Homo sapiens: one gene and its partners. The gene in region 2 interacts genetically with the main gene of each other region. Each region holds a gene or a part of one and is shown on either strand. Other genes may lie near its edges. The genes, in order: TRAPPC12, MAN1A1, SEC31A, EZH2, VPS51, PTEN and RAB1A.

Region 1 (4,531 bases), on a different chromosome or scaffold from region 2:
AAGGAGACACTTAATGATTTTACTGAGGCGAAGCACGTGGCTCACGCCTGTAATCTCAGCACTTTGGGAGGCCAAGGCAGGAGGATCACTTGAGCTCAGAAGTTTGAGACCAGCCTGGCCAACATATTGAGTCCCCATCTCTACAAAAAATACAAAAATAGCTGAGTGTGGTGGTGCACACCTGTAGTCCCAGCTACTCCAGAGGCTGAGGCAGGAGGATGGGCTTGAGCCCAGAAGATCGAGGCTGCAGTAAGCCATCATCGTCCCATTGCACTCCCGCCAGGGTGACAGAGCCAGACTATGTCTCATAAAATAATAATACTAATAAAATAATAGAAATAACTTAAACCATGGGTGAAAAATTGAATTGTTCTGGGAAAAATCAAGATGTATAGTTATCAAAGTGATAAGATAATGTGCTTTTTAAACTTTACTAGATAATACCAAGTGGTTTCTCAACATGGATGTTCAAAGGTATACCTCTTTCAGCTCTGTTGCTTATTTTTCTAATGGATCATTTAGTGTGCTTTTATTAATTTGTAGGGATTCTTTATGTATTCTTCGTGTTAATCCTTTCTCAGTTACATTTGTTTGTTTCACTTTTTTTAGGTTTTTAATGATAGAACTTTCCATTTTAATATAGCAGATGTATCCATTTTCCCTTTATGGTTTGTACTGATTATGCCTAGTTTAAGAGGCTTTGCCTACTCTGAAAATATATTCTCTTATATTTTCTTCTGAAAGTTTTGAAGTTTTGCCTTTCACAGTTAATTTTTGATCCCCCACCCCCGCCCCGCCCGAGACGGAGTCTTTCTCTGTCACCCAGGCTGGAATGTCGTGCCTCAATCTTGGCTCACTACAACCTCTGCCTCCTGGGTTCAAGCGATTCTCCTGCCTCAGCCTCCCGAGTAGCAGAGTAGCTGGGATTACAGGTGCCCGCCACCACACCTGGCTAATTTTTGTATTTTTAGTAGAGACGGGGTTTTACCATGTCGGCCAGGCTCATCTTGAACTCCTGACCTCGTGATACGCCCGCCCCGGCCTCCGAAAGTGCTGGGATTACAGGCGTGAGCCACCGCACCCGGCCTTCACAGTTAAGTTTTTAACGTCCCTGAGATTGATACTGTGTCTGTGGTGAGACAAGATTCCAAGTTTATTTTTTCCCAGCTGCATGATTTGTCTACACATCACTCAAGGAAAATCGTCTCTTCCTTTGATGTGTGCTACATATTCCCTTGTGATAGTTCAGTCTTGTTTTTTTTTTTTTTTTTTTTTTTTTTTTTTTTTTTTTTTTTGAGATGAAGTTTCGCTGCTGTTGCCCAGGCTGGAGCACAGTGGTGCGATCTCGGCTCACTGCAACCTCCGCCTCCTGGGTTCAAGTGATTTTCCTGCCTCAGTATCCCAAGTAGCTGGGATTACAGGCGCCCTCCACCACACCTGGCTAATTTTTGTATATTTAGTAGAGACAGTGTTTCACCATGTTGACCAGGCTGGTCTTGAACTTCTGACCTCAGGTGATCCACCCTCCTCGGCCTCCCAAATTGCTAGGATTACAGGCCTGAACCACCGTGCCTGGCCCAATATTTCAGTCTTTATACCATAGATTTTTGATGTATTCTACATAAATAATCATACACGAAGAATGAAGGTTTGTATTTTTTTCTTTTCAGTTTTTATTGTAGCTTTTAGTTATTTTTCTTGCCTTAATCCTGCCCGAGGACTCCAGTATTAGGCAGCATAAAAATGTTGAAGAGGACATCTTTATCTTTTTTCTACTTTTAAAGAGAATGCTTTAAACGTTTCACTGTTAATTTGAGGTTTCCTTTAGGTTTTTGGTAGATACCTTTGATTGCATTAAGGAAGTTACTTTCTGTTGCTAGTTTGCTGACAGGTTTTATCTTGAGCAGATGCTGAATTTTATTAGATACTTTCTTGTGCATCTATTGAGATAGTCATGTACTTTTATTTAATCTATCGCATTAAACCAACAGTACATTTCTGGGATTACCTGAGTTTGGTAGAAAATAAATACATTGCTGATTCAGTTAGCTAATATTTCAAGATTTTTGCATGTGTGTTCATGAGTGAGATGATAGCTTCCCTTTTAGTATGGCCTTGTCAAATTTTGGTCTCAAGGTTATATTAGCCTTATAAAGTGAATTGGGTCATGTGTCTTTTTTCTTCTCTGCAAGAATTTTTGTACTGTAGGAATTATCTGTACGGAATCTTTGGTAGAATTCACTGGTAAACCCTCTGGACCCTATATTTTCTTTGTAGGAAGACTTAACTACTGGTTATACTTTTTTTATGGTTATAGAACTATCTCGTCATATATACATGGTTATTACTAGTGTCTGCTTTGCATTTGAACCTTACATTGGAATAAGATTAGAGTAAGGAAACCCTTGAAGTGAAGAAGCTATTTTGCTACAAATTATATGTCCATTCTCACAAAATCTTATGTATATAATTTATATAGATGTAGCTTTATAATATATGTATGTCTTCCCATTCATAAAAGCATCATCTAAATCACGTTTTATATCATTTTTATTTGAGCATTCCTCTTGATTTTCTAGAGAAGAAACCCTCAGATCCTTACTTACAAGCATTTTCCTGCATCTAGATTTTATTTGTGTGAAAGCAAAAGTGATCATCCTTGCCCTAAATTATTAGGGCTTTTTATTACTTTGGTATTTACTTAAGAATAAAATTTATTTTTTTATTTTCTTCTCTTCTCAAAAGTGGTTTGCAGGTATTAATGAAAATTTTGGACATTCCCATTTTATCAGTTCTCCTTAATTTACAATTTATAAAGTTTTTAAGCTTTATAATTTAGAAGCATTTTACCTTAATTTTTATTATTTTGGTGGTTTTTCTAGGCGATGTTTTTTGTTATTATATCTCTGATAAACAGATTTCCCTAAATCTTACAGGTTTAAAGCAGCTTCATCTTCACAATAGTAAGAATTGTTTCTTTAAAAAGTTTCTTCACAAAGGCAATAAAACTTTTAAAATCTGTGAGATTGAATCAGAATTAGCTTTAGAACCTAGAATTTTGTTAGGGCTGAGGGTAGATGAGACGGAGGGAAGATCCCTTTCTCTCATCATTAGCTTATATCGAAATCAATTCTTATTTCTAAAATAAAATACGCAGACCACGCTAGTGCCTTCAAGTCCTGCTGGGAGACTTCAGAGGGGGCACTGCCTCATGCTGCCTGTTTGCTCCTTGTGCCCGGCCTCTATCCCTGCACAGGAAGGACCCGAAGGAGCAGCCTTACCATGCACAGGGGGCTCCCCCTTTGGGGTTCTAGGGCAATTTGTTCTTCGGGCTCCCGGTGAAACATGGCAGGAAAAAAAACGTTTTACTCCTTTTCATTGGATTTTTTATTCATTTATACTTAACAATTATTGGATGAATGTATAAGGGAATTAGTAGCTGACCAGGCTGAACCGGAAACTTCTTCAAAATGTATAACTTGGATTATGTACTTTAAAATAATGTTTTGGGAAGGCTGACTCATTGGGAATACTATGATGGAAGTGTTGACAGTGAGAAAAGGGTAGTCTTATCTAGAGATCAGCTAAGTGTCATTTTTTAAGTAAAAAAGGTACGTGTTGTTTTATTCTGAAAAAAATCCCTTATCTTTTATCATAGTCTCTTAGATTTCCTTAACTTGAATTTGTTCACTATGAGAGTAAAACTACATAAAGTAAAAGTTTTTCAAGAAAAAGAACAAATACTTTTTTACAGTTTGAGCTCTTTGTCTCATTCTTTGGCTGGTCCTGGTTTCCCCACTCACTAGCGGTGTGATTTCGGCTTACATAGCCTCCCAAGGCCTCAGTGTCCTCATCTGCGAAACGAAGACAGTGATAGCAGCTGTCTCGAGGGGTGTTCTGAGAATCACACAGGCATATGTATATATAGCCAGGGGCATAGTATGTGCGGATAAATGTTAGCTAGTTGTGTTGTCAGCTTCAGCCATCAGTGCTTAGTGAGTGTGCTGTTTTCTTACTGTTTAAATTTTTCATGTCATTCGCACTGTATCAGATTTCCAGAGTCAGGCAGATAATATGAGCTGGGGCGTGGGGCGGGGGTAGGGGCGGACGGCATGGGGAAGTCAAGAGACTATTACAAATTGAAGAGTCTTGGGAGGGCTTCATGGAAGAGGAGGGACTTAGCTGACTCTCAGAATGAAGTAGTGTTTATATGGCTGGAACCTCACACCTACTGGAATGGCTACTATGAAATAAAAACAAAATAACAAGTGTTGGCAAGGATGTGAATTCCAAGGCTTGTGCACTGTTGGTGGGAATGACAAACGGTTCAGCCACTATGAAAAACAGTTTTTTGGTGCCTCAAAAAAATTAAAAATAGAATTACCATATAATCCAGCAGTTCCTTCTAGGTATTTACCCAAAATGATTGAAAGCAGGGTCTCAAAGAGCTGTTTGTACAGCCACGTTCATTGCAGCAGCATCCACAATAGCTAAAAGATGGGAGCAACCCACGTGTTCAACAACAGATAGC
Region 2 (4,531 bases):
TTTTGATGCTGTTCAGGTAACCCAATATTTAAATCATCTTTGCCACTCAGCCCTAACTTATAATTTGTATATTAATCAAGTTTTAATGAATAAGTGGTATACTACATGAGTGAGTTACAAAGTATTTCCAATTAGGTAGAGTTCGATATCTGCTAATATCATCGTAATAATGGTAATCATATTTGATGTTTATTTCTAATAGGGCCGTTAAAGTTTTTGCATGGTTTAAACCTCAGTTAAGAGTCACATATCTGAAAAAGTAGTATTCTTTGATAAATATGAATTCTCTCCTTAGGACCACAATTTAAATTATGCAGGGGGAAATCCTGAATTTGTATTCTGACAATTGCCTAAGTTAAAATTGCCTGAGAAGACAGACAGTCCCAATGGCTACCTCCATGTGAAGTAAACTTGTCCCCAGAGATAAATGGACAGTACTCTAAGGAAATCCACACATAAAAATCTGAACAAACTCATATTTCAGGGAAGATCATTAATAGTATCAAAGATTCTTTACAGTGGAGAAGTAAGAGGCAACAGTTGAGTGTTGAATTGCCTACCATGTGCTAAGCTGTGTGTTAGGTAGCTCCTTTAAATGAAGCGGTGGAGTTGGGTTTTTTTCTCTCTCACAGTACTTGAGATTATTACCCAGTTTTACAGATAAAGTTGCTGTACCTCAGAGAGATTACATGTCGAACCAAAATTAAGATTAAAGTTTGTCTATATCAGCACCTGTTCCTTTTAACTCATCCACTGTGGATTTATTTGTAAGAATTTCCATTCTACACTTAAATCTTCATTTACTAATTTGCAAGCAGTAAGTTAGTAAGGTAAGTTAGAAACTACTTAAAGTCTCTAGGAGGAGGCTAGTATAAAAGTAAACTAAGAAACACCTCCAGTTAAGCCTCAATCAAAACCGAAAATAAAGTTAGAAAGTAAATAAAGTTAGAAAGAAAATTACTTTATCTAAAATATTTGTACTCTTCAGGAACAAAATTTTTTAGTGGAATCAGGTGCTTTTGCGATTAAGTATTTTATGTGGTAATACATATATTCTTTTAATATTATTATCAAGGCTTCTCAAGTAGTGTTGTAAAATAGTGGCTCAGTCCTCAGAAAAATTTTATTTTTCTTGACAGCTTAGAAATTTTTTAATAAAGTGTTAATTCATAGGAAAAAAATGGAAATTTGTAATCCCAAAGATGTAGCCATTATAAAATTGGTCTTTCTAACAAGAGGTCTGGGTTATTTTGACATAGGCGTACTTTTTTATTTAAATATAAATGCAGCTTGCTTTGTTCTGGTTAACTACACTGAGTATGACATTGGTTTCCTTTACAAGTCTTCACTACTTCACATGTAGGAACCAGAAGCGCCTTAGTGAGAACGTTGGCCTACATTTGGCACAGCCTTTATAAAGGCACATGATTAACATCAAAAGCAAACTAGGATATGATCCACATGGCCTCTTTTAGGTTTATTTTTCCTCATTGCTGTGAGGTTTCAGATTTTAACCTGGGGAGTTCTCCATATTTTATAGTTTCCATTCTGTCATCCTCTAATTACCATACTGGCAGACATTTTAATTATTCTAATCTTAAATTGGCCGTCTAAGATCTTGATGTTCAAAAAAAGACAGCTTTAAAATATTATTTGAAATATTTTCTTCCTAATTCCTAAAACCATACCCACACAACTTTTAGTATATTGTATTCAGACAAATCATTGACAGGAAAATCCATTAAGAACAAATGAAGTCAAAGTGTTTCCTGCTTCTCTTAGTAGTAAAAGCTAATTTTCAATCCACTGTATATTTTCAACTTAGAAAGCAAAGCTAGAACAACTAAATTTCTGTTTTGAGAAGTAGCATTGTCTTATACAGCAAAGTTTATTTCTGCTAAGTTGTACTTTAGAAGATTATTGTAACCAAGGGGAGGATGCTGTACACTATTGTTCTGGACAATTGATTACTGAAGATATGGCTACTCTGTTGTAGCTTCAAGTAGATTTTGGGAAGCATTTAATCCCAGAGTGATATGTTTTATTTGATTATTTTAATAACAAAATATTTTGAGCTTTCAACTGGCTATCATGGCCCTATCTGGAGACTACACTAGGAACTCACAATGGCAAATGATACCTGGGCAGAAGACATATCAGACACTTACGATTCTGAAGGCTTCATCAAACCAGTTTTTTAAATCAATTATACAAGGATTAAATCACAAAATATATAGTACTCTTTTTTCTAATCAATTATCTGTATCCTTGACACAGTTTTTTCAGATCTACTAAAGACTATCCTTCTTTGTATTTATTTATATTTCCCATGGCCACACAAAATTATTGCTTTGAAGGTCTTGGAATTTCATTGTAGTTTTTATTAGGAGGTAGCAACTTGGTCCGAATCATGCCAGAAATACTTTATTTAGGATCCATAACAGGGTAATAATGTTTCTCTAATTCATCCTCAAAAGCTACTACTCTTGCCATGTAGAAAGAATAATTTCTTAGGTGATGAACAAGTATCTGCTTGAAGGACTTTATTGCAATTTGTGTTATGAGAAGTATAAATAGCTAAGATGTTCAGTCGCATAAAATAAGAATGAAATATTAATGTAATAACTAAACCATCAATAACATTAGCTTAACCACGGTTAATGAGCACAGTAATATGTTCATTTATTTCTTACCATCTTGGTTTCATTCGTTTATTTCTAATAAAGGTAGGAAAGGTTTTAGCTTCCTGTGTGTTCATTTTCATTCATTCTTCTCTATCACAAGTTTTTTTCTGTGTCTATTATTCCCAAATGTGCTTCCTAACAAATCCCTCTCTCTTGATAGCAGTGTACAGGTATAGACACAGTCATGTCCTTTTTCCTTCCATGAAGTAATTGTGGGGCAGTGGGGAGAACATTTTCTGTTAGAGTAATTGGAGATTAGCAATGCCAAACACACTTTATTTTTGCTTTTTAAAATATAAGGCATATTTTACTTACCTGTCTAGTTTAAGAGAATATCAACAGACCTGGGATAGAAATAAAAGATGTTTTATAAATCATTTTTGTAAACATTATCATTTCTCCCAAATTTAAAGATTTTTCTGATTTTTAAAATATATACATTTATTCATTATATAATAGTGTGCTTTTTAATAGAAGTATTAGAGAGGAACTTGATTCAAGCGTCACCACTTTGGAGATGTAAATGATAATTATAAATGACTCTTATCAAGTGCCACTTGCATTAGTGACTGCTTTATAAACAAAATGTGGCAGAGTCGTATCAGGAGATCCTGTTGTTCCCATTTATGGATTAGGATGCTGAGATTTAGAGATATAGTAAGCAAATTGTTCACTCCCACAAATTAGAGATAGTGTCAGAGCTGGAATTTGAAGCCAAGTCTTCTGGCCCCAGAACACCTCCTCTTTGCCACTCTATTTTGTTATCCCTCCAAGCCTACAGAAGTGAAAGGAAGAGTTCTGCCACCATCCTGGATCTCATGCACAAATATGCTGTGTTCTTCATCCACCTTAGGGCCTGGGCTGTGTTATTTCACCACTTATGGAAATGAAAATGTACCAAACCAACTATTACTGCTGCACAGTGGCCTGTCTTTGGGAAGGAGAAAGTTTTTTGAATATGAGGAATACAATGTTTGGTCACAGAACCAAGCAAAACCAAATGTGCTGGCGCAGCAGTGTTAATTCTGACTAATCAAACAAATAAGGCATAAACTAGAGGAGGAATACAGAAAGCAATAGCATGTAATTTCAGGTTGAATGGATTTTTAACACCAAACTCTGATTGTCAGGTGTATTCTATTCTTTTTTTTTTAATGTTGGGCATATTTTTAGTATAAATTTGAGAAGAGATTACAAAATGTTAAAAAATAAGTGTTTTTCACAGGCTATCGAGACTCATTTGATCCGCAAGTCTAGCAGCGGACTAACTTATATCGCAGAGTGGAAAGGGGGCCTCCTGGAGCACAAGATGGGCCACCTGACCTGCTTCGCGGGGGGCATGTTCGCACTCGGGGCTGATGCAGCTCCCGAAGGCATGGCCCAACACTACCTTGAACTCGGGGCTGAAATTGCCCGTACTTGTCATGAATCATATAATCGAACATGTGAGTACATGTTATTCTTCATTTATGGTCTATTCCCACATGCTTTGATTTAATGCAGTTTTGTCATTGCTGCCCTCAAAAGACTATCCGCTCTGCCTATGAAGCTTGATGATCGTGATTAATGTCTCAAAGGAATGTATATTTTATTTTAAAAGGCAATGCTTTTCTTCCTAAAAATATCTACCTTTAGTTTACCAAGAAACAAAAATCCAGGCCATAAAGAGTTAAAGCCAGCCTAATTTACTGACTTCTGCTTTTGCCAATAACATTGGGCAAGGGTCTCTATCTCCCTGCAAAGAGAAACTTAGCATTTTATTAACCATTATTAATCTTCTCCACATCCCCCATGAAACAGATCATGAATCCCACTCCCTTCTTATAAAATAGGAATTTGAAACACAA
Region 3 (4,531 bases), on a different chromosome or scaffold from region 2:
CTTTATTTTTTAAAAGTATGATTCATAAAGAGCATGCCATCTAACTTTCCCAAAAGTTTACCTTCTTTCCTAGATCTTCTTTTCTGTATCCTAGAAGTTCAAGGTATTTTCCACGAGAATCATCCTCAAAGTTTACCTTTAAAAAAAAAGACATATTCTTAAAACAAAGACCTACATTTAAAGGCCGAATTTTTATAAGAATGAATCAAATTCCAAAGAGAATTATTAAAAATATCTGAAGTCTACATTCTAAAGATTCACTGTTTGAAGGAATCCAAAGAATAGTGGGTTTTTTTGTTTTTTATTTGGAGACCCAGCCTCAGGAGGTCCTGAGAACATGTGCCCAGAATTATTTTTTTAAATAAGTTATTTATTAATAGTAAATATACTAGTAATTAATTATCCTGGTTGAATAAAGCTTACTTTTGAACAGTAATTTCTGTAAATACAAACTTATGTCCAAAGGTTAAACTGATACAAAACTCAAACTATGTGGAATATTCTATGTCCTAAAATTCTTTCCCAAAATTATTACAAAATATAAATTCTTTAATTTTATACTTTAACCTAACTGTATTCAAGACTGCTTTACCTTTGAAAAACCAGTACCGTATAAAGAAACAGACATTCCAGTGGAGGCAAAATGACCAACCAGGAAATTCTATTTGTTATTCTAATCTAACTCCTCTTAAAGTAAAAGGAAAAATGCCTCCAACCTCTCTCCTCTATTCCTCTTCCTCTTTTTTCATTTTCCTTAACTAGATCTACTATAGATGTTAAATATTCTGTTTTCATTATAGTAAACTCTATGTACTCATCTTCAAAATAGGTGTGCTGACTATGTCGCTCTCCTCTAAACAGACCTATTATTATTTTTTTTTACTTATTAAAAATGTATTTCATATTACACTTTTCAAAGCAGAGAAGGAAAAACTCTGGACATAAGTTAGGTTGTATGCTCTTTATAAGGCTTCTTAATTTCATGATGAATTGCTGAAATCACACTTTTTCAATTGTTTCTTTAATAGGAGGACAGATTTAGAATATAAAGGAACAGTTAAATTTGCAGATAATGAAATAATATAGCTTTAAACAGCAACTTTACCTTCAAAAAGGACCACACATTTTTCTCAAATTCAGTCTGAGAAGCATCAATTTTTTTTTGGCAATAATTGATAAATCCTTGTGACTGCACAGCCTGCTGAAGTTGGTCTGATCGGCTGAGGAACTCCTTTTCTGTTACAACCTGACTAATGAACACATGGTGCTGCTGCTGCTGCTGCTCAGCTCCCTGATGAGAAGGCATTCTGACATTCTCAAACGTAACCAGTTTGCCTCCAAACTATAAAAGAGAGAATGAACAAACTCAGTGTTAACCCAAGGATATGGCCAAAAAAAGTGCTTATAAAGTGGCCTAAACAGATAATCTGGATGAAATTAGTTGATACAACCTCTCATGCGCCACAGTCTGACACCACTTCAATTTCTGTTCTAGATGAAATGTACTTTTTTGGTTTTTTGGTTTTTTTTTTTTTGAGACAGAGTTTCGCTCTTAGTCACCCAGGCTGGAGTGCAAAGGTGGGATCTTGGCTCACTACAACCTCTGCCTCCTGGGTTCACGTGATTCTCCTGCCTCAGCCTCCTGAGTAGCTGGGATTACAGGTGCCGGCCACCATGCCTGGCTAACTTTTGTATGTTTAGTAGACAGGGTTTCACCATGTTGGCCAGGCTGGTCTTGAACTCCTAACCTCAAGTGATCCACCCAGATAGAGAAGACCAGATAGGACGATGAGAAGATTAAGCAGATCCAAAGAACAGACTTACGAGTGACATAAAACATATTCAAAGGTCCATTTTAGGAAGATTAATCTTGGAATATGTAGTAGAGATTAGAGGGGGAAAAGACAAGCAACAAATATGAAATCAAGCTATTAGAAGTTTGGCATGAAAGAATTAGGCAAGGTATCAGCAATGTAAAAGGAAGAAACAAACAAAAAGTGCTAGAGAGGATGTGGAGAAACTAGAACCCTTGTGCACCACTAGTGAGAATGTAAAATGGTAAAACGGCTATAAAATGGTATGGAGGTTCTTCAAAAACTTAAAAATAGAACCATCCTATGATCCAGCAATCCCACTTCTGGGTATATGTCCCAAAAAACTGAAAGCAGGATCCCAAAATGATAATTACAAACCCATGTTCACCACAGCATTTATTCACAATAGCCAAAAGGTGGAAGCAACCAAAATGACCATCAAATGAATGGATAAAAAAAAATGTGGTATATATATATATATATATATATATATATATATATATATATATATATACAATGCAATATTATTTGGCCTCTAAAAAGAAGTAAATTCTGTCACACTACAACACAGATAAACCTTGAGGACATTAAGCTAAGTAAAATAAGCCAGCCACAAAAAGACAAGTACTGCATGATTCCATTTATATGAGTAATTTAAAGTAGAAAACTCCTAGCAACAAAGTAGAATGTGGTTACCAGGGATTCAAGGGAAACAGGAAATGGGGAGCTGTTGTTCAAGGGCACAGAGTTTCAGTTTTGCAAGATGAGAAAGTTCTAGAGATCTGTTGCACAACAACGTGTATATAGTTAACACTACTGTAGTATATATTTAAAAATGGTTGTAGTGTATATTTTAAAATGGTTAAGATAGTAAATTTTATATTATGCATTTTTTACAATTAAAATTTTATATTATGCATTTTTTACCATTAAAAAAAGCTGGCAATTAAAAAAGAAAGCTAAAAGGATGAAGAAGAGGGAGGACACTCCCTGCAAAAAGAAAAGAAAAAAAGAAGAAAAGAAAAGAAAAAGAAGGGAGGGAGGGAGGGAAAGAGAGACAGAGGGAGGGAAAGAGAGACAGAGAGAGAGAGAAGGAAGACAAATTTAAAAGGGAGGAGGGCCGGGTGCAGTGACTCATGCCTGTAATCCCAGCACTTTGGGAGGCCGAAGCGGGTGGATCACCTGAGGTCAGGAGTTCAAGACCAGGCCAGTCAACATGGTAAAACCCCATCTCTACTAAAAATACAAAAACCAGCCAGGTGTGGTGGCACGTGCTTGTAATCCCAGCTACCCAGGAGGCTGAGGCAGGAGAATCGCTTGAACCAAGGAGGCGGAGGTTGCAGTGAGCCAAGGTTGTGCCACTGCACTCCAGCCTGTACAACAGAGTGAGACTGTCTCAAAAAAACAAACAAACAAACAAAAAAATGGAGGAGGGGAGGAATATAAAGTGTTGGCTACACAACAACAATGTAAATGTACTTAATGCCATTGAACTGTATATTTAAAAATGAACAAAATGATCAATTTTATGTATATTTTACCATGATTTTTAAAAAAGGGAAAAAAAAGAGTAGGTTCCAATTTTTCAGAGAAACCATTTTGAATGATGAAATACCCACAAGTACATCTCAAATCCCAACTTAAACCCTGATTGCTTCCATCAGAGTGACTCTATAATAACACTTTGGTATAAAAAGTCCTTTGTGCCTATGGACCATAAAAACAAAATCCACCTACTGAAAAAGAAGCACCAACAGGCCTTCGAATCCACTTGGGCGGCTTCTTCAGAGGCAGCACTATACTATGCTGAGCAGTCTGCTGTGGAATTTGTAACGGAGGAAGGGGCTGTCCTGTGCCAAAGGGATCAAGATTCCCAAAAGATGATGAAAGCTAAAAAAGATAATAATAACATAAGCATCCGACCATACACAAAGTTTCATTTTTTTCCAGTCATATCCAAAAAAATTTTTGATCACAATTGTCCAATTAACCAGCATTGTTAATCAGTGAAGTCATTTCAAAATATTACACAACACATACTTTTTTCAGGCATTATAATAGAAAACTTTAACACTTCCTATTACCTTGTCAACTTGTTTCTGTCTTAAACCATCTGTGCTACCTCCCATGATAGAATAAACACTGATACGCCCATCAAACGAAGCAGCTGATAAGACAGCAGGATTTCGGGGACACCACTGAATATCGAAGCACCACTGTGTGTTGGTGGGAAGTTCATATAACACCTAGGCCAACAAAAAACAAACAACAAAACTCAGAAAATGGTATGGCCACTTTGTAACCAAAACACCTGAATTAATGTGGTCAACAAGTATAGTTAAATTGAATATTTTTTTGTAGAAAGTATCTTTAGCCAGGAAAAAGAATACTAAGATTTTTTAAAGTGCAAGAATGATCCATTACGATGACCTATTCTGATTAACAGGAATGCAGCTTAAAATTTCAATCAGATTTGAATAAACGCATTTTAAAAACTGAGGCTTTTCTGTGTTCAAAATAATGGATGCATTTGAAAGACCAGCACACTCTATTAGAGTCAACTTTTTTTTTTCTTTTTTGAGACAGGGTCTCGCTCTGTCGCCCAGGCTGGAGTGCAATGGCAGCAGCCTCAGCTCACTGCAACCTCCACCTCCTGGGCTCAAGCAACTATTCTGCCTCAGCCTCCCAAGCAGCTGGGATTACAGGCGCCCATCATC
Region 4 (2,205 bases), on a different chromosome or scaffold from region 2:
CTGTTTTTTGATTACAGGTTGGTAAAGTACATTTCTAGCATGATCTCTAAGGGCTTTTTCTACTGGATTGTGAACTCTGGACAAAGGAGGGTTTTTAGTTCTTTGCTTCTTTTGATGGGTCACTTTGCCATGAGCATTAGTGGGGAATTAGGTTACACTTTCCTGTTATGTATTTATTATCCATTTATATATTATACAAGGCATGCTTATTTTTAAAATAGAGTAAAATCCATGCAGAAAGCCCCATTTCTCACCCTGCTGTTGACAGCTGGGTGAGTCCTAGACCTTCTCATATCATGCCGCATGCTGCATGCTCACTCGTGGAGCGTTTTCCAGATAAGTGCGATCACACTGTCCTATAGATTTTTCTGCAACATGGTTTTACTTGACAATATACTATGCATATCTTTATGGATTAGATCTACTTAATTTATTGTTTGCTATAATACTTATTACACATATCATTACCATTTTAAAAGGGGCTGTTGGCAAATCGCTGTCTGATCACCCTGTGGGGATGCCTGGGACACGTGGGCCACCAATGGTATCTGTGTGGTTAGGCATTAGGCTGCCAGTTGACACTGTCAAGCTCTGTGGGATACATTTAAGTCAGCCATTGAATACAGATTTAAGTGCAGTCAGATGACTGTCTAGTTAATGAACTCCTGTAGCCCCGTGTACATCCCATCCAGAAGCTGTCTTTGAGTACTGTGTTCTTGCATATTCAGGCTGGCCTTTAATGGCTGTTGCACAGCAGCGAGCTCTCAGTGAGGCAGACAGGGTCTGAGTGAAGGGCCCACTTTAGCAAAGGCCGCTGCCTTCACTCCAGGCTGGCTCTGAATGAAGAGTGTGGGGTGGAGCTTCCTTGGGATGACCCGGTGGCCTCACCCCCCATGGTGGGCTTCTTGTGCTCCTCTCTGGGTGTCCGCTGCACTCCAGTTCTTGCTTCACCTGGGGGAGCAACTGGCGGGCTGCTCTTTGGCCCTCTTTGCTATGGTCATCATTTTTTCCAGACCATGGTTCTATTTTGCCTTCCCAGCGTCAGGCCTAAGCATCCTGATGTGGACCAGCCTTCCTGGGACCACTTGCTTCAGAGGCATAGGGGAGGCTGGTCAGGCTCTGGGAATGCTTGTAGACAGGTTTGTTCACTTCAGAACTTGGCAGCGTCTCAATTAGATGGCCAGCAACACAGACCTATGCATTGCCTTCTATGAATGTGCCGTTATGCAGGCAGCTGTGTAATTGGATGGGTTTTTTTTTTTTTTTTTTTTTTAAAGACATTTTAATGCACCCACTATCTTCAGCAGGCTTTGTTGTGTTAAGTCTCAGCACATGTTGGATGGGTGGCCATCCAGCGGACATCTCCTTCCTGTTGTTTCAGATACAGCCAGGCTGATGCCCTGAAGTATGTCGGCATCGAAAGAGAAATGGAAATCCCTTGACATCTGCTACCTCCTCCCCCCTCCTCTGAAACAGCTGCCTTAGCTTCAGGAACCTCGAGTACTGTGGGCAATTTAGAAAAAGAACATGCAGTTTGAAATTCTGAATTTGCAAAGTACTGTAAGAATAATTTATAGTAATGAGTTTAAAAATCAACTTTTTATTGCCTTCTCACCAGCTGCAAAGTGTTTTGTACCAGTGAATTTTTGCAATAATGCAGTATGGTACATTTTTCAACTTTGAATAAAGAATACTTGAACTTGTCCTTGTTGAATCATCTCTCATAACGTGTCAATAACTGCTTTCAGGACTGCTCAACAAAAAACTTTTAAATTTAACTCCTTGGGTTTTTTAGTTGTCTTTGTATGAATCTTGATTTAACTAATACTGCCTGTGAATATGTGGAAGACATATATGAAGAACACTGCTGTGCATCCTGAGGGCTTACCCAGTAAAGGGCTTGATCTTATAGACAAGACCAGGGTGGGTACGTTCCAGTCAGCTGTGCAACCTGGAGAAAGAGATTTAACCTCCAAGTCTGTTCCCCATATATAAACTGACAGAGTAGACTTTTAGGTTATTTTTAAGAACGTACCTAGTTCTAAACTCCATTAGTCTAGATAGAGTTCTTTAGAAACAAACACAATATAAGTTGGGATTCCTTACCTACCTTATCACAAAAGGTGATTGATAGGTATAACCAAACTGTAGTTTTATATCTTCTCAGAGGTAAAAATCACAAACTCTGAAAGCGTCAAGGAAACG
Region 5 (4,105 bases), on a different chromosome or scaffold from region 2:
AACTCACCCTGCAAGAGAAGGTGCCCAGGTCCACAGCAGGTCCCCTCTTCCAGGTAAGGCTGTTAATGACCCTCTGCTGGGGCTCTAAGTGCCCCAGCCCCCTCTGCAAGGGACAGCATCATCCTACATTCTAAGTACCCCGGAGCAGCTTCCCTGAGTGGGGGCAGAGAAAGCCAACACTGGGGACCCCACCATGCCCTGCTTCTCAGCCCAGCTGCAGATGCCCTGAGCCTTCCCCACCCCCCAGACCGTGCATAAGAACCTGAAACCACACCCAGAGTGCCTGGTTTCCCCAGTTTCCCAAGCACTGGCATAAAAGGTTTTGGAGGGTCAACCAGCAGGTTGAACAAGGAACACCCAAGAGGAGGCGTACCCGGAAGTAGGGCTTGTTGGAGAAGGACACCTCTTTGGCGGTGAAAAGGTGCACTGCTGCCAGAGAGGCCTTAATGTGGCTCAGGATGGAGCTGGCCACATTGGCCAGCAACTCGGCCAGGCCAGGGCCCTCCTTCCCAGCCACGCGAGGTGCTGCCAGCGCCTGGCGGACGTCTGTCAGGCAGCCCAGGAAGGCCGCCCGGAGACCCTGCAGGTGGTGGCCCAGGCGCTCGCGGGCCACTCGTTCCACGATCTCCGTGGCAGCGTCTGCGAGCCCGGCAGCGGCCAGCAGGGCCCCGGGAGCCCGCAAGCGCCGGTGGAAGCGGTCCAGCGCCCGCACCAGCAGTGAGTTGTCACCACCACCCTGCTCCTGCGCCAGCCGCCGCTCCACCAGCGCAAAATAGCGGCTGCCCAGCTGCCGGGCGAAGGCCGCCAGCTTCTCGGCACCTGCTGGGCCCTGGGCCGCAAACAGCTCCTGGTAGGCCGCCGCCACCTGGCAGAGGCCGCCCACGAAGCCACTGCCTCCATGGTCGGTGAACTCTAACACGTCGGGAGCCGGAGGTGAGGGCCCCAGCTCGGCCTCCAGGTTTCTCAGCTCCTTCTCCAGCCGGCCGCGGGCGTGCGCCAGGAACTCCTCGCACAGCTCCTCCGCAGGCTCGCCCAGGGCCAGCAGCAGCTCCACGCACTCTGCCTGCTCCGGGGCGCCTGAGCCGCCCTCCCTGCACGAGGGAGAGGTAGTGAAGGGCAGGGCCGGGGCTGCCGGTGGATGGGGCAGGAGCAGGAAAGCAAAGCACACACAGGGCAGGGGGACAGCTCCAGGAGGGCCCAGGAGCCGGGCACAGATGGGGCTCGGGGCTGGCGGGAGCGCTGGGGTCAGGGCAGAGGGGCCACACCTAAAGCGCTGCCGCAGCTGCTGGGCCAGGCGGGCCGTGATGACCTGGCAGTCGTCCTGGATGGCGCGGAACGAGGGCAGGTGTTGGTACTGCTGCAGCACGGCCTGCGCGCGGCCCTGGTAGCGCACCGCCTGCCCATAGGCGCCCAGTTCCACGCACTTGGTGAGGCGCGAGGGCAGCTCAAAGAGGAACTGCAGCTTCCGCAGCAGCGCGTGGACCCCTGGGGGACGGAGGGTGACGTTAGCCCCAGAGCCCCAGGAAAGGCCCACTGCAGGCCCTGCCCGGCAGCGCCCACCTGCCAGCTTGGTGATGCGCTCGTGGCGGTCCTGCAGCGTGGCGCTGATGCGAGCGCTGAAGTCGGTGATCACTGCCATGTTGGTGGCCAGCCGGTCCATCTCATCCTCCATCTTCCGGAAATCGTTCTTCATCTTCCGGATGGTGTCTAGGAGGGCAGGGGCGGGGAAAAGGGGAGAGCAGGTGACTGCAGGGCGGGCGCAACCTCAGCTCCTTCTCACCCACCCCTTCACAGACGCCCCAGCTTGCTCCAGGGGCGCATGGATGATTCCAGAGAAAGGACTGCGAGGGCGTGGGTCACAGCGCACATGGGGGCGGGGGAGGGGGTTTATGTTCCCAAAGCAGGCGTTACTCACATACTCCCCGTAACCCCCTAACCCTGGTGCCCAGGAGAGCCGGCCCTCAGAATTAGTCCAGATCCGAAGCAGGCCGCAGGTGCTTAGCCAGCTGCCACCACTGTGCCTCAACTGCTCCATCAGACCACAAGCAGCCAAGGCAGGGACCGCTGGCTCCCAAGCGCATCTGCGTGTCCAGCGCACTGCCTGGATGAGGCAATACATTCTTGTTGACCCTCATCTCCTTTCCAGACCTCCCAAAGCCTTTCACATGCTTTCCGGAACATGGGCTGTCTTCTCTGAAGGGCCCTTTCCCTTTGGTCCTGATAGAATCCTGCCTAGGGAGGCTGTTTTTCCTTTCACACACCAGGTGCCTGGGAGCCTGGTCCCTTCATGCTTCTAAATCATGCCTAGATCTCCTCTCTTCAAAACCCCGGCTTCTAGGAAGACCATGCCATCAAGCCACAACCCTCCTCTTTGCTGTCTCTACTGTCCTCTGACACTCCTCTCAGTTCCCCATCACTGCCTCTTCTCCTCCTCCTGTCACCTCCTTGTGCACATCCACATGGATGAGCCTTCCAATGTTCCTGACTGTTCACTGACGGCCTCAATTCAATTCCACCTATTCTTTTTTTTTTTTTTTGAGACTGAGTCTCGCTCTGTCGCCCAGACTGGAGTGCAGTGGCACGACCTCTGCTCACTGCAAACTCCAATTCCCAGGTTCACACCATTCTCCTGCCTCAGCCTCCCAAGTAGCTGGGACTACAGGTGCCTGCCACCACACCCAGCTAATTTTTTGTATTTTTAGTAGAGATGGAGTTTCACCATGTTAGCCAGGATGGTCTTGATCTCCTGACCTCATGATCCGCCCACCTTGGCCTCCCAAAGTGCTGGGATTACAGGCATGAGCCACCGCACCCGACGAGGTCTGATGGTTTTATAAGGGGCTCTCCCTGCTTCGCTTAACACTTCTCCTTCCTGCTGCCTTGTGAAGAAGATGCCTTGCTTCTCTTTCACCTTCTGCCATGATTGTAAGTTTCCTGAGGCCTCCCCAGCCATGCTGTGAACTGTGAGTCAATTAAACCTCTTTCCTTTATAAGTTACCTAGTCTCGGGCAGTTCTTTACAGCAGTATGAACCTGGATTAATATACCTAGTAATCAATCCATTACCAAGTCATGGAAGGTCTACCTGCAACATTTTCTTTGTAAGCCACTATCATCTCTTGTCCAACAACTGCCAACATTTCCCAACTAATTTCCCTAATTCCATTGAACATACCAACAATGTTCATAAAGAAAGGCGAAGAGGATAAGACAGAAATGTGTATCTGTAACAGGAGATATTTTGGTTTTGTTTTGTTTGAGAAAGAGTCTCACTCTGTCACCCAGGCTGGAGTGCAGTGGCGCGATCTCAGCTCTGGAGGCTCCTGGAGGGTGGCACGCCCGGGGAGGGCATGGAAACTCCATGCTCCTTCTCCTACACCTCGCCCTATGCACCTGCTCATCTGTACCCTTTGTAACATCCTTTGTAATAAACTGGTAAATGTGTTATCCTGAGCTCTGTGAGCCACTCCAGCAAACTGAGCCCAAAGAGGGAGTTATGGAAACCCCTACCTGGAGCCAGTTGGTCAGAAATTCTGGAGGCCTGAGGCCCTGACCTGCAGCTAGTGCCTGAAAGTGGGGAGGCAGATTTGGGACTGAACTAGTGCCTGAAGGGAGGCAGGCTTGGGGACTCAGCCCTCAACTCATGGAATCTGATGCTATCTCTGGGTAAATAGTGTTGGAATTAAATCAGAGGACACCCAGCGGGTGTCTGCTGCTTGGTGTGTGGGGAAGAAACCCAACACATTTGGTCACAGAACTCTTCTGTGGTCATGATTGTGGTGATGTGAGAGCATAGGAAGCACACAGTTTGCATTTTTCCCAAACAATGCCATAAAATATATACAAACCTTTCCATATGGTAGATCACAAAGAAAAAAACCTCATTCTTTTTTTTTTTTTGAGACAGGGTCTCCCTCCGTCGCCCAGGCTGCAGTGCAGTGGCGCGATCTCAGCTCACTGCAACCTCCACCTCCTGGGTTCAAGCGATTCTCCTGCCTCAGCCCCGAGTAGCTGGGATTACAGGCACGTGCCACCATGCCTGGCTAATTTTTGTACTTTTAGTAGAGAGGGTTTCACCATGTTGGCCAGACTGGTCTCTGACCTCA
Region 6 (4,531 bases), on a different chromosome or scaffold from region 2:
TCACTGTAAAGCTGGAAAGGGACGAACTGGTGTAATGATATGTGCATATTTATTACATCGGGGCAAATTTTTAAAGGCACAAGAGGCCCTAGATTTCTATGGGGAAGTAAGGACCAGAGACAAAAAGGTAAGTTATTTTTTGATGTTTTTCCTTTCCTCTTCCTGGATCTGAGAATTTATTGGAAAACAGATTTTGGGTTTCTTTTTTTCCTTCAGTTTTATTGAGGTGTAATTGACAAGTAAAAATTATATATAAATACAATGTATAATATGATGTTTTGATGTATGTGTATATACATTGTGAAATGATTACTACAGTCAAACTACTTAACATATTCATCACCTCACATAATTATTATTCTCCCCCCAGGGTGAAAGCATTTAAGATCTACAAGCTACAATTTTCAATTATACAATGTTATTATTAACTATAGTCACTATGCTGTCCAGTAGAGCTTCAGATCTTGTTCATCTTGTGTTCCTCCCTCCCCACCCTCAGTCCCTGGAAAACAGGTTTTAAAGATAGTTGCTAATCCTTATTTCTTCTAAATTTTTAAATCAGTTGCTGCCTCAATTTCTATATGAGAAATGACTGATTGATTTCATTTTTCTGTTCACGCTACCATTTTCATATCATACTAGCACATGTTACCCATTAACTGTATTGCAGATTTGGTCTCACAAAATTCTTCTAAAATAACATTTTTAAAAAGCATATTAATCAAAAATAAGCTTTATATTTCTGAAGCTTGTTTGAGCATAGAATGCCTTTGGATAAAATACCATTACCTAGTAAAGTGTGAACTTTTATAATCCATAAAAATTATTCTTTTATAAGAATATTCATAAATGTAGTTAGATTAATAGAAGATTCTCGATTCTTTGATCAGAAAACTAAGGACTATATTGAAAAATCAGTGACAAATTTAATTCTTATAGTACATCTGAAAGAAAAAAGAAAACTCTTGGGAGAACTTTTACAGTGATTTAATTTTGCTGTTGATATATTTCTTTGGGTGGTAAGTATGGCAAAACATGTTAAAATTTAATGCAAAGAGATTTTGTACATTTTTCCATCTCTAAGAAGGACAAAGCCTAAGCCCCTCCAGATAGATAGAAAAACTCATTTAGAGAGTTCTCCTTCATGTTAATCTAATTTCTTCTTAATTCAGCTGTAAAACAGAAATAGAATGATCGTATTAATCATTTAAAGCTGTGTAATTGCATAGATTCCTTGTTCCTTTACCCCCTCTTATATCTTGTTTCCTATCCTTTGTGACTTTTTTTGCATTATATATAAGGATGCCGAAATACTGTTTATTGTTGATAGTTTACAAAATTGAATCTTACATTAGTGCATAATTTTGGTGAATGTTGAAGATTATGGTAGATTGCCTTACATTTCTGCATATTGTTTGCACCTTGGAATGATAGCACTGGCATGAATTATAGAGCTGAGGATCTAAAGATTTTTACTTTGATTTATCCCATTATCATCTGCAGGGAAACAATTGCTTTTACTGATTAAAAATGCAGGCTGGGCACAGCGGCTCACGCCTGTAATCCCAGTACTTTGGGAGGCCGAGGCGGGCGGATCACAAGGTCAAGAGATCGAGACCATCCTGGCCAACCAACATGGTGAAACCTCATCTCTACTAAAAATACAAAAATTAGCTGGGTGTGGTGGCGCGTGCCTGTAATCCCAGCTACTCAGGATGCTGAGGCAGGAGAATCGCTTGAACCCGGGAGGTGGAGGTTGCAGTGAGCCGAGACTGTGCCACTGCACTCCAGCCTGGTGATAGAGGGAGACTCCATCTCAAAAAAAAAAAAAAATGCAGTAGCAAAAGCGATGGTAGAAATTTAAAACAGAGTTGATGAGCAGCATATATTTTGGTAGTGGAAAAAAAGGTAAAAAATTTTTTGTAATAAAATAGAAAAATTTTGTAATGTGGAGGCGCAGAACACTAGATTTAAGCCAGGGGGTCTTAAATTGTGTTACATTCCTTTTAAAGTCTGATGGAAGGTATAAATGTTCTCCCCTCAAAAAATGTGCATAGTGTACATAAAATTTTGCAGTTTTTATTACATTGAAATATATTCTTTTAGACAGAATGTAAAAGAACCTTCATGAAAACTATGTCACTTTTTTATGCAAAAACCAGTGGCTACTACATGAGAGCAATGAATAAATCTAAGTGGTACAAATTAACCAAAATTAAGCTTTAGTTCTGTTCAATACTAAATTTTAATGAAAAGACTGCTATTTAACTTTTAAAATAACAAGTTGAAACTATGCTCTTTGACTTTGACTTTGCAACTTTTATATGATCTTTGATATCCAATCAGTGTTGACTTTGGTAAAAAGTGCTGAAAATGCTATTTTACAAAAGAAAGAAGAGTAAATGGAATCTGTAGATTCTATTGCCTGATGAAAGTAGACGTGTCAAGAAATAAGAATTCTCCAAGGCTCTTCAGATAAATTCATGTTTCATCATTTTCTTTGCCTTCAAGTTACTGAGATCATTTTTGGCAAGATCTGTATCATTAATGCTGTGTTAGGAAAGAAAAGATTATGACTCCACATTTTACTTTCAAGGTTGAAGAGTTAAACTGTTTAAAAAGAGTGTATGTTATCCTGTAAACAGCAGTATCAGGCTGTAGAATTTGTCTTCTGAAAGCAGGGAACTTATATATAGCAAAGAACTTCATAGTGCTCCCATTTCTTGACAAAACCTCTCGAGAAGCTCTTGATTGAAAGTCTTGGCTTTCATGAATCTGGCAGCTTTCACAATAGTGGATTTTTCATGACAAATCATCTTACACAGGGAATTATTCAAGGGTTGGCACTTGAAACAGTAGAATACTTTCACAACAAGAGATAAGATTTCTTTCAGGATTGATGACAGTCTTGCACCCTAGCGCATACTGATGAAGAGAGCAGTGGGTGACCATGACATGGAGAGCTTCTGTCTTTACCAGTGCCCCAATATCAGATGTGTTGTCTGGCAGTAAGGTGTACTGTCTGCCTACAGAATACTGAGGTTTCTTCAGGAGAAGTTTTTTGGTAAAGAAACTTTACCATTTTGAAAGTGTTAATGTTTTCTGAAGCTTCCAAAAAGATTCCAAAATGGGAATGTTTCCTTGATTGTGTCACCATGCTTGCATTTGATGAAAACTTGTAGCCGGCTATACTGAGAAATCATATCTGAAGAAAGGTGGTACTTCCAATCTTTTTGTGACCTACTTTATTATTGTTTTTTTAATGTCAGGGTTTTTTTTGGAATGGAGAAAAGTATTTGATAGAGGTATTGCAACAGTCTTATTCTTCTTCATGCTACAAGTATATTTGACTCTTTCTAAGATACTTGCCTTCACTGTTCAACTGTGTGACTTTTTGTTTGTTTAGCATTACAATCAATATCCTAGTAGGATGATTTAATCAATGATTTTTAATTGGAACAAATAGTTTTTGTAATGGTCTAGGCTTTTCCAACTTAACTGTGCTCTCACATGTGGTCTCTTTTTCTCCCTCTTTCCTCCTTCTTATACACTCTCACCCACACACATATGCATACATACCCTGTCTGATGTATCTGCTTCTTCAGAATAGTTGGCTGTGCTCTGCTGATGATGAGAACTTGCCATTTAAGAAGGACTTGGGATAGTCCATGTCATCATGTTCAGGGATAAAAGTAAAACCCAAGGGCATTTAAACTTTATTGTATTTTATTTTCTGTTTCCAGTCCAAATTAAATCCAAGAGAAGGCTCCATAATCAAAAAGTAAGGACATATTTTAAATTTGCCAATGGGAAGATATTCTAGTCATTACAGTCTGGTAATACTATCAATTCTGTTTCTCTTCAGAGGTGAGGGGAGACTATTTGATGAAATCGTAAGTCCTGTAGGGTGTTGTGAAATAGGGCCAGAATGAAAGATAGCAAGAATAGTGTTATGAAAATAAAATGCAAAGTTTATAATATCATGTGGTAAAATGTAATAGTATTTACTTCATCAGTAGAACTGCTCTAGTAGCTGTATATTCTCCATCCTTGCATAGGTTGGAATATCCCCCAAGTGAAAAGAGATTGATGGGCTAATAGTTAATAGAAAATGGAGATCTGTACATACAGTGTTAAGAATGTAGATATTAAAATTGTTATATTTAGCTGTTACATAATATTAAGACTCAGAGTTAAGTAATTTCACTGAAATTGATTGCTTTTTGTGTCTTGGAGTCAAAATAAATAACTGAAATCTACTATACTTGGCTCATGCTTAATTAATATACTTAGACCATATTTCGGATGAATTATTCACAGAATCTAAAGGAGTATCCTCGTGTTCTTACCTTCTTTATCCCTGTGTTTATTTAAAAAGGCAAAAAAAATGGAGCAGATGCTGTTGGTTGACCATATTTTACTGAACAGTAGCATTTGTGTTTAGGTTGAAACAGCATTAGAAAACTAGATACGGATTAAAGTCAGTGGTAGGTTTTTTTTTTTTTTTCTTCCAGGAATGTTTCTTATAGAT
Region 7 (3,907 bases), on a different chromosome or scaffold from region 2:
TGTTCTCACACTGCCACAAGGAACTGACCAAAACTGGGTGATTTATTAAAAAAAAGGTTTAATTGACTCATAGTTCTGCATGGCTGAGGAGGCCTCAGGAAACTTACTGTGGCAGAAAGGGAAGCAGGCACGTCTTACATGGCAGGAGGCGAGAGAGTGTGAAGGAAGTGAAGGGGGAAGAGCCCCTTATGAGACCATCAGATCTTGTGAGAATTCATTCACTATCACTTGAATGGGGGAAACCGTCGTCATAATCCAATCACTTCTCCATAATCCAATCACTTCCCTCAGTGATTACAACTTGAGATGAGATTTGGGTGGGGACACAGAGCCAAACCATATCAGTGCCTGTAGTCCCAGTTACTTGGAGGCTGAGGCAGGAGGAACACTTGAGCCCAGGAGTTCAAGATCTGCCTGGGCAACATAGCAATACCTCCATTTTGGATAAAAAGGAAATTTTACTTTTTGGGTGCCATTGCTTACTTTAATCAGCTGTAACTTCTTGTTGACTTTTAGTCAAAAAACAATTTTTCCTTCTATCTTTGTGAAAGAGGTTGGTGAGCAAGGAAGAAAAGGAAACTTGCTTTATTGAGCAGCTTCTATAGTCAGGCACATTTTACAAACATTAGTTCATTTAAACCCCTTTAGCTGTTGTACAAGGTGAATGCTATCTAGCATTTACAGATGAAGAAACTGTTAGGTGACTCTCCCTAATATTAAATAACCAGGAACCTGGATTTGATGTTTTGAAGTCAGGGTAGCTTGATCCTCGAGTTCATGCTTCCTCCAAGGATACACTGAAAGACTTTGAGCCTCTTTTTTTTTTTTTCTCTTTTTTTGAGACAGGATCTGGCTCTCTTGCCCAGAGTGCAGTGGTGTGATCTCAGCTCACTGCAACCTCTGCCTCCTGGGCTCAAGCGATTCTGCCTCAGCCTCTCGAGTAGCTGGGACCACAGGCGCACGCCAGCATACTTGGCTAATTTTTGGATTTTTAGTAGAGACAGGGTTTCACCATGTTGGTCAGGCTGGTCTCGAACTCCTGAGCTCGTAATCCGCCCGTCTCGGCCCCACAAAGTGCTGGGATTACAGGCGTGAGCCACCGTACCCAGTCCCAACAGTTTTTTAAAACCCAGAACTATAATGCAATAATGTTAGCATTTGTTTTGGGAGTTTGAGCCTAAATGGTTGAAGTGCAGTAAATTGTTCTTAAAATACGTTTTATGAAAGTATTTGGAGTCATCTTCCTTACATTTTTTTCTCTAGGATGAAGACAACACCTAGCCAGGCATGGTGGCTCATGCCAGTAATGCCAGCACTTTGGGAGAATGAGTTAGGATAATTGCTTGAGTCCAGGAATTTGAGACCAGCCTGGGCAATGTAGCGAGACTCTGTCTCTACAAAAAAGAAAAAATTAGCCGGGTGTGGTGGCATGTGCCTGTAGTCCCAGCTACTCAGGAGGCTCAGGTGGAAGGATTGCTTGAGGTGGGAGGTTGAGGCTGCAGCGAGCCATGATCATGCCACTGTACTCAGCCTGGATGACAGAATGAGACGCTGCTTGAGAGGGGAAAAAAAAGACACCTGCTTGGGATGATTAAAGTTCTGTCTTGACTGGTAGTTATTTGAATTAGGTCCCTCCAGTGCTTTTAATCATGGTAGAATGTGCTAGCAAGTGAGTTTGTCTTACATGGAAGAGTTCTGTGTTCAAGGGCTTTCGGCCAGTGGCATTCCTAAACACAGTGTTAAAGGCGGTAGGGAATGTGAAAAGTATGACATAGTTCCTGCTCTCAACAGCTTGTAATTTTAGTATTATTATCGTAAGCTCAATTGTAGGTACTACTTCTTTTCTGGACTTTCAGGTGCTTATTACCGTGCAATTTAGTGGTATGAGTTGAGGACTAATGTTTCTATATCACATCCTGATAATCTCCACAGTTATGAAAACTAAACTATTTCCCCTCCCTCCTACACTTTTCCCCAACTTTATTTTAATGGAATTGTTTGGATTTCTTGATTGTTTTGTAATAGTGGGACACAGCAGGCCAGGAAAGATTTCGAACAATCACCTCCAGTTATTACAGAGGAGCCCATGGCATCATAGTTGTGTATGATGTGACAGATCAGGTAAGTTCCAAGAGGAGATTGTGTTACAGTGACCAAGTAGGAAGCCATTATTTGATTAATGTCAGATTCATTTACTACTTCATATATAAGCCATCAGTATTAATTTTATGGCAGAAAACTTTGTCCACTCTCAAATATAAATGTGAATCACTTAAAAGACATTTGTTTTCCTGTAATAAATAAAAGATTAGTAATTAGTTTTACGTTTGCTTTCAAGGGATTCTGGTTGTATTTATTGTCAACTAAATAACTTTGATCAAATAGCCAAGACTCTAACATATAGGCAAGAGTTTGTAGGGAATCGTGAGTTGCTTGGCTTATACTGTGTTCTTGGTGTTAAGTATTAACAGGAATATGGCCTGGTAATTAGAACTTGTCCATCAGAATTGCCAAAAGTGGGATTCGGGGGTCTCTGCCTATGGAGGATGTGGTTCAGAAATAAAGAATTTGAATAGGATAAGCTGTAGGAGGATCTTAGTATGAGAATGAGTATCTGAAGATTAGCTGTGAGAGAGGGCAGAGCGATGGAGGGAACAATGTGGGACAGTGTGAAGCATGTGATCCAGGGGCCATAACTTTTTTTGTTACTATTTTTTTAAATCAGAAACTTAGATTTCAGTGTCCTTTCTATCAAAGAAAAGGACAAAAGATAAACGTTCAAAATTGGAATTTATTTTTCTTTTGGCAAATGTTAAATCTCACCTCTAATGAGAAATCATAGCTAATTAGGAGATAACTTACATGTAAGCATTTAGATTCAGTGCCATTAGAAGTGCTGGGTGGGTGATATCTGCAGGAGAAAAAAATGATGCTAGTTTAAAAAATCTCTACTATTACCGTGAAATATTTTTAAATGAAAACTTTCGTCCTCTAAATATGACTGTGGAAAAGAAAATGAGTATATTTAATAACATCTTTTGACATCTCTAGTAGTAACAGTAGGTCATCTTATTCATAAACCAAAATTTTACCAAATTTCAGGCCAGGCGCAGTGGCTCACGCCTGTAATCCCAGAACTTTGGGAGGCCGAGGCGGGCGGATCACCTGAGGTCAGGAGTTAGAGACTAGCCTCGCCAACATGGCAAAATCCCATCTCTAGTAAAAATACAAAAATTAGCCAGGCGTGGGGGCCCGTGCCTGTAATCCTAGCCACTTGGGAGGCTGAGACAGGAGAATCGCTTGAACCCAGCGGGCAGAGGTTGCAGTGAGCCGAGATCGCGCCATTGCACTCCAGCCTGGATGACAGAACAAGACTTTGTCTCAAAAAAAAAAAAAAAAAATTAATCAAATTTCAAAACCAGGTTTTGTAGTACATTTAAATTGCATATTCCAAAGCAGTTGGGTTTGCCTGCGTTGCAGTTTAATATTAAGCTATACTTCCCTTTCAAATAAGGTATTTTCATCGTTAAGCCTGTAAATTCTAGTTTGTCATTGTTTAGATATTTATAGTCATTTTAATATATCTGTTTACGGCCAGCTGCAATGGCTAACACCTGTAAACTCAGCACTTTTTGAGGCCAAGGTGGGCCGATTGAGCTCAGGAGTTCGAGACCAGCCTGGGCAACATAGTGAAACTCCATCTATACAAAAAATCCAAAAAAAAAAAGACAGGTGTGGTGGCATGTGCCTGTAGTCCCAGCTATCCCGGAGGCGGAGGCGGGAGGATGGCTTGAGCTTGGGAGGTCGAGGGTGCAGTGAGCTGTGATTGTGCCACTGCACTCCGGCCTAGGTGACAGAGCAAGACCCTGTCTCAAAAAAAAAAATCTCTTCACTCCTTAGCAGTGGT

The links.
Region 1: changes in MAN1A1 (region 2) and TRAPPC12 together harm fitness more than expected from each alone (negative genetic interaction), as found in Homo sapiens cells (one large-scale study listed by BioGRID).
Region 3: changes in MAN1A1 (region 2) and SEC31A together harm fitness more than expected from each alone (negative genetic interaction), as found in Homo sapiens cells (one large-scale study listed by BioGRID).
Region 4: changes in MAN1A1 (region 2) and EZH2 together harm fitness more than expected from each alone (negative genetic interaction), as found in Homo sapiens cells (one large-scale study listed by BioGRID).
Region 5: changes in MAN1A1 (region 2) and VPS51 together harm fitness less than expected from each alone (positive genetic interaction), as found in Homo sapiens cells (one large-scale study listed by BioGRID).
Region 6: changes in MAN1A1 (region 2) and PTEN together harm fitness less than expected from each alone (positive genetic interaction), as found in Homo sapiens cells (one large-scale study listed by BioGRID).
Region 7: changes in MAN1A1 (region 2) and RAB1A together harm fitness more than expected from each alone (negative genetic interaction), as found in Homo sapiens cells (one large-scale study listed by BioGRID).

Annotation. Positions count from the first base shown.
Region 1 is NC_000002.12:3,382,618-3,387,148, forward strand, and holds part of TRAPPC12 (trafficking protein particle complex subunit 12), read left to right. Parts: intron 1-4,531. UniProt on the Homo sapiens protein: Component of the TRAPP complex, which is involved in endoplasmic reticulum to Golgi apparatus trafficking at a very early stage.
Region 2 is NC_000006.12:119,189,262-119,193,792, reverse strand, and holds part of MAN1A1 (mannosyl-oligosaccharide 1,2-alpha-mannosidase IA), read left to right. Parts: coding exon 1-16; intron 17-3,909; coding exon 3,910-4,129; intron 4,130-4,531. UniProt on the Homo sapiens protein: Involved in the maturation of Asn-linked oligosaccharides. Progressively trim alpha-1,2-linked mannose residues from Man(9)GlcNAc(2) to produce Man(5)GlcNAc(2).
Region 3 is NC_000004.12:82,863,257-82,867,787, forward strand, and holds part of SEC31A (protein transport protein Sec31A), read right to left. Parts: intron 4,061-4,531; coding exon 3,899-4,060; intron 3,705-3,898; coding exon 3,552-3,704; intron 1,343-3,551; coding exon 1,106-1,342; intron 137-1,105; coding exon 62-136; intron 1-61. UniProt on the Homo sapiens protein: Component of the coat protein complex II (COPII) which promotes the formation of transport vesicles from the endoplasmic reticulum (ER).
Region 4 is NC_000007.14:148,806,883-148,809,087, reverse strand, and holds the end of EZH2 (histone-lysine N-methyltransferase EZH2), read left to right. Parts: coding exon 1-17; intron 18-1,381; coding exon 1,382-1,442; 3' UTR 1,443-1,705; downstream 1,706-2,205. UniProt on the Homo sapiens protein: Polycomb group (PcG) protein. Catalytic subunit of the PRC2/EED-EZH2 complex, which methylates 'Lys-9' (H3K9me) and 'Lys-27' (H3K27me) of histone H3, leading to transcriptional repression of the affected target gene.
Region 5 is NC_000011.10:65,105,183-65,109,287, reverse strand, and holds part of VPS51 (vacuolar protein sorting-associated protein 51 homolog), read right to left. Parts: intron 1,708-4,105; coding exon 1,561-1,707; intron 1,486-1,560; coding exon 1,266-1,485; exon of another isoform or gene 1,264-1,265; intron 1,092-1,263; coding exon 374-1,091; intron 9-373; coding exon 1-8. UniProt on the Homo sapiens protein: Acts as a component of the GARP complex that is involved in retrograde transport from early and late endosomes to the trans-Golgi network (TGN).
Region 6 is NC_000010.11:87,933,125-87,937,655, forward strand, and holds part of PTEN (phosphatidylinositol 3,4,5-trisphosphate 3-phosphatase and dual-specificity protein phosphatase PTEN), read left to right. Parts: coding exon 1-127; intron 128-4,531. UniProt on the Homo sapiens protein: Dual-specificity protein phosphatase, dephosphorylating tyrosine-, serine- and threonine-phosphorylated proteins.
Region 7 is NC_000002.12:65,089,197-65,093,103, reverse strand, and holds part of RAB1A (ras-related protein Rab-1A), read left to right. Parts: intron 1-2,025; coding exon 2,026-2,121; intron 2,122-3,907. UniProt on the Homo sapiens protein: The small GTPases Rab are key regulators of intracellular membrane trafficking, from the formation of transport vesicles to their fusion with membranes.